Linked DNA regions of Homo sapiens: region 2 is linked to region 1. Evidence: fine-mapped expression QTL. A gene starts in region 1. The other region holds a variant in brackets. All regions are shown on one strand. Distances are between the middles of the regions. Region 1 holds the start of LINC01140 (long intergenic non-protein coding RNA 1140). Region 2 overlaps LINC02801 (long intergenic non-protein coding RNA 2801).

Region 1 (2,793 bases):
AGCTGGCCTCTCTGGATCAATCACTCCAGAAGCGCAGAGGAAAGGGGAGCTTGCCTCAGTAAGCAAAAGTCACCATTATCTGATTATCTTTAGGGATTCCCTACTATCTGGATAGCTAGTCATGACTAGAGAAGATTCTGCATGGAGACAATATATCATTTATTTGGCTTTTATTTTTACTGAATTCAGTGCTCATGGAAAGTGGCACATTGACAACGCTGCTTCCTAGCATGACATCACATAAATAAGTTTGAAGATACTGCTTAATAAGAACCCTTTAAAGATAAGAGAAATGGTAGAAAGAATTGAAGGATGCTGTTTCCTTTTTAATATCTGCCATGAATCATAGTCCAGAGAGAAGACAGCCGAGGCATGCAGGGACAAGACACTAGCACAGGGGTCAGGAGATGGGCATTCACAGTGGGTACAGCTCAGATCCCTGCCTTTGCTTTGGCCTGAGGCTGGGCAGACAGGGACATGGAAAGCTATGGGGCTGGTCTGAAGGGTAGGGTGGGGTGGTTAAGCCTTTGCTGGCACATGGCTTTGCAATCTTGTACACTGAATAAATCCATCAGAGCACTGCATCCACTCACCCAATTAGCCTGCACCTCATGAACACCTATTGTGAGGCCAGCACCATGGGGAAACTGAAAGAACCAGATATTCTACCACCATGGAGGAATGACCTCACCCTGGGTAGTAACTCTTCCCTTCTGCTCATCTACCCAAAGGTAAAAGAAAGTGCAAGTTTCCTAGTTTACATTGTGTTTCTTGAGGGAGAAAAGGCTCTTGGTAAAACAATGCCTTATTCCTTTCGTTTGGAAGTTCTTTCTGCAGAATACAGCTCAACTGGGGGTCCCCAAAAGGCCCCTGAATAATTTAAAAAAAAAAAGAGGTGGTGTCAGGCAAGGGCTTTAGGACGTAGAAGGTCACTTTTGGTTGTTGTCCTGTTGATCCAACTGCTTTACTAACTGGAGCTATTGCTCAAGCTGGAGGGTGAGGGAATGGGTGGGGCTGAGGCTGGGAGTTGCTCAGTAGTTGACCCCAAGTGATCTTGTTTGAGGAAAACTCCTGTGATCCCCCATCAGAATATTTTGAAAGTGGAAGAGTCTGCTGGCGGGAAGGGAGAAGAGTGGGAGGAGGAAATAAGCAACAGGCAGCTTCCTTTCTTGACAGATGGAAAATAAAGGGCCTGTGCACAGCTCGGCGAACTGCTCCGTGGACCTCCCAGCGGGGCTGCTTTCTGAGGTGATGGTCTCCTCGCTCCTTAGCCAGCCTGGTGGAGCCAGCTACTGACGTTGGAAAGGAGTTGGAGGATGGAGGTTTGTGGCCGGCAAATGAGAGGTGTCGGGGAGGGAGAAGAGAAAAGCAAGCGGGCTGAGGAAAAATGTAAGGGAGGGAGATGGTTCTTCGATGAAACCTCTGGCCTCTTTTAAACCATAAAGAGGTCTGGCTGGTTTGATTCCAGTCCATAAAATGGCTCAGTAGGATCTTAGGGATTATTTAGCTCAAACCCCTGAGAGGTGAGGAAACTGAGGCCCAGAGGTCCCACTTGCCTTTGGTCATGGGGTGAGTATGTAGCCCAGCAGGGTCCCAGCTCCTGTGAGCTGCGATTCATGGTGTTATCTTTGCTGGGGAGGCCTGAAGTTCCTTTAGCTTGTCCATGTGAAACAGAGGAAGAGCCCACAAGGAACGCATTCATCTCAGAGTTAGGTGACCTTGGCTTTGGGATCTAGTTGCTCATTACTTCCACTTTCCTTGCCAACATCTTTCCTAAGCCTTCCAGATCAGGGCACAGTACCACTCCCTTGCTGCCAGACAGGTGGCCTGTCGTGTGGGCAGGAAGGGGAGTTCAAGGCAAGCAAGGCCCACTGTGAACCCCCTGCTAGAAGTGCTCTCCCCTTCCTTCTTTTGGAGGTGGCAGTTACTAGGCAGCATGACCCAGAGGAGGAGATAAGCTGCCTCTGATAGGAAGGTTTTATCTTTGAGGTTATTGCAAATATGCCTGACTTCTTCATCTGGTTCTGTCCGGATCTGAACTGGTAGCCAGATAAACTGTTGGCGGTCCCATTTCATGTATTTATCAAGTCTAAACAATTGTCAGGAGGCAATTATCCCCCAGGAAGCCAATGGCAGATAAATAGTGTCCCGCAGTCTGGTTCCAGCCATGGAATCTGTAAGTTGTCCCTCCTTGCCCTGTGCAGATTTTCTCCTCTGTCCCTGCTGCCCTAAATTTTAAAGGAGGTTTGATGTTCCAACACGTTTGCTTTGGTGTTCTTTGCCCACAGCCCCAAATAAAATCTAATGGTTTTTATAGGTGGATAAATCCTTTTTAAAGGCTCTTTTGTTATCACCATGGGGTTTGTGAGCACTAAAACTGGATTTTAAGGGATCAGTGAAACCTTAGAATCACGGTTTGCTGTATCTGGAAGGAACCATGACCACTTGGTACAGACCCTTCAAGCGGTAGATGAAGAGGCCAAAGCACGAAGGGATTTGATGGCTTGTGAAGGCAACGTGCTCTTCAGAGTCGGGCAGACGTGCAGCTGAAGCTTGGTCTGGCCACTGATCTGCTGCCCGGCCTTGGGTAAACTCCTGGAGCCCCTATTTCCTTATTGATTACATGGAGATACCAATCCAGACTGCACAGTATTGTGAGAGGTAGTAAAACTGTTTCCCTCTGGTCGAGGTCAAACAGACAACTGGGGGGCAGAGCTAATGCCAGAACCTTAGTATCCTGGCTCCCAGGTCTTTATCCTTTCCATTATTCTGCAGGAGGTCTTCAGGCTACTG
Region 2 (2,793 bases), 92 kb after region 1:
GATTGATATGTGTGGGACAAAGGTAGCTGGTTCAGAAATTGGAGCTGAAAACCTTGAGAAGAGGTCCCTTGGAAGTGGCAGCAATCTGGAGGAGAGCTTTGGGTTTCCAAAGGCCACAGAATGGGTGGGAGGTAAGTTCTGGTCAATTTTCTTCATACCCACAAAGAGCTGGGGAGCCTCTGGCTGGCATCTGTGTTACCCTCAACAGCTACAGCTTCTCCAAACTAACTACCAGCCTGCTCTGGTCTTGACTGGCTCAAATATTCTCTTGCTTCTTCTCCCCACATGTCTACCTGGCCAGTGTGTGTAGGCGTAAGAGAACCAGCTGGTAGTATGAGGATGCTGGTTAGGAAAGATGGAGCACCAGACAGTGGAAGAGAGACAGGGTCCAAGAAAAGAGAGAATCAGTAAAGAAAGCAGAAGCTCCATTTCATAGCCCTCCCTCTACCATATGAAAGAAAGCAAAACAAATACATGTCCCAAGCCAAAACTGACACAAAAACTGATCCCCCCTGCCAAAAAAACCATCACCACAACAAGAAAACCCCACTTTCCGGTGGTAAGGTAAAGGGAGAACAGGCAACAACAGCAAAGTGTGGGTGACCTCGTTGCACGTGGCACAAACGATGAGCTAAGATGGAGTTTTAGGCCAAGACAGCAGAAGGTGGCCACAGGGATATTTCATGCCTTATTCAGTGTTCACAGGTACACCTAGTGAGAACCCATGTCTTAAATTCTGTCCCTGAGTGTGAAGTTGAAGCAGAAGGCCCATTAAAAAGGGCCTTTAGGAGTGCTGTGGAGAGTTGATAAAGGTGTGAGAATCCTGCAATGGCTGACATCACAAAGAGAGAACTTGAGATCCCCTTTCAAGTCCTGGCTGAGGGTTTTGACTGGAAAAGCTGGTTTTAAACACTGACATTATGAATGCTTGGGATGTGAGTAAAACACCTGAAATTCTTCAGCCAGTTGTGAATAGAGGAATAGTCCCATTTTTTAATGGCTTGACTTAGTCACTGAAGGTGATTTCCTAAACCCCAGAAAATTGTTACAAACCATCAGACTGTGGGTGCCACAGCCCTTAGTCAGTAAAATAGCCCCACATGGTGGGAAAACATTCCAATCTCTCTCCAAAATGGGAATAAAGGCATTCAACAAAATTACTCGGACTTTAAAAACACAATACCATTTCTCACTTTGCGTTAGTGTAGTAACAAATTCTAATGGAGGTAATTCTCAAGTATGCAATTGTATAAACTTGCCTTCTGAATGGAAAGATTGGAATTTAGGCAGCTGACCCCTGGCGTGATGTTTATGATCAGATCCAAGACAGGGCTGTCTGCCTGTCATGTCCCAGTCGGTACCACCCTGCCCAGCATCTATGTTTGCTAAGGGTGTACATATACAGCAAGATCTGAATCAATGAAAACATATCCCATGTCTTTATGGAGTGACCCAGAAAGAATAGCGTTTATACTGACCAAGAATACGGTTCACAGAAGTTTAAGGAGATTTA[T/C]TGGGCTGCCATTTACTAGCTGTAAAATCAGGATTGTGATAGTCTCTACCTCATAGAGTTGTTGGGAGAATCAAATATGATCACTGTCATAAAACTTTAGGCTAGAGCCTGACACTCAGCAAGTATACAGTATACACATAGGAAATGGTACTAGAACTTTTGTTAATACGTGATGGGAAGTTTCTATGGTGTGGAAAATTTTTAAATGAATGAAACACAGTCCTTTCTTTAAGAATCTCACTGAAGAGGGAGTAGAAGAAGACAGGTCAGTGGATAATTATGATATACAGGTCATAGTAAATACAATGTATAATAATAGGAGTAAATATTGAGTATTGCTTTAGGAGACGTGTCAGTGCTCTGACATAGGGAATCATTAAGGGTGAAAGGGCCATCTACTTGCATGAAGCCTGTAAATGTGAAAGACTAGGTCCTAGCAAGGCCAGCATTGCCATTCTGCTGTCCTAATGATGGATGGGGATTCGTGAGCAATTGAATTGAGCCACTGCCATTACTATTGATTTTTGGGATAGACTTCTCCATCAGAGCCAGTAGGCCACAGTCTGGGTCAGTGGCCAGACTGACATAAGTTTATGACCTTTCATAGGCTTCCCATGTGTCTCACCACACACCCATCTGCCCGGGGCCTAGGATCAAGCTGGCGGTAAAGGACTTGAGAAAATGAGGCTTGAATTAAGTGACCTCAGATCTAAACCAAATGTGGCTGGAACCTCTTTCTTGTTTTGAGAAGGATTTTTTGTTGTTGTTGTTGTTGTTATCAGAGCTTTGGAAGCAGTTTAATGAAGGGCGTAGATGTGGAAATGAGATGCATGTAGGTTTCAATAGTAGCTCCTATTGCCTTGCTCTTTGACCTTAAGAAAGTTTCTTACCCACTTTGAATCTCAGTTCGTTGTCTACCAAACAGGGAAAATGAAACCTACCTTATTAGGATTTGGGGGTTTTGTTGTTCATAACAGCTTCTTCAAGATATAATTTACATACTATATAACATTTCACCCTTTTAAAGTGATTTCAGTCAGTGATTTTTTAGTATATTTAGAGTCATGCAACAATTGCCACTATCTAATTCCAGAATATTTTCATCACCCCCATAAGAAACTCATACCCATTAATAGTCACTCTCCATTCCTCCTTTCCCCTATCCCTCCCAGCAACCACTTATTTCAGTTTCTCTGGATTTGTCTATGCTAGACATTTCATGTAAAAGAAACCATACAGTATGTGGTTTTTGTGACTGGCTTCTTTTACTTAACATAATG

Evidence for each region. PIP is the estimated chance that this variant, and not a neighbour inherited with it, causes the effect. A credible set is the group of variants that fine-mapping cannot tell apart.
Region 2: its variant is the best candidate, but not a certain one, in a credible set for the expression of LINC01140 in nasal epithelium (TOPMed, PIP 0.82).

What each region holds. Positions count from the first base shown.
Region 1 is chr1:87,128,673-87,131,465 of GRCh38, forward strand. LINC01140 (long intergenic non-protein coding RNA 1140) reads left to right here and starts at 1,093. Exons shown (of 3, transcript NR_026989.1): 1 at 1,093-1,322.
Region 2 is chr1:87,220,214-87,223,006 of GRCh38, forward strand. It overlaps LINC02801 (long intergenic non-protein coding RNA 2801), which reads left to right. Exons shown (of 4, transcript NR_167752.1): 2 at 1-131. Among named protein-coding and RNA genes, the nearest start is that of LINC02801, 8.9 kb to the left of the region's middle. The variant T/C (reference allele first, on the strand shown) is at 1,514.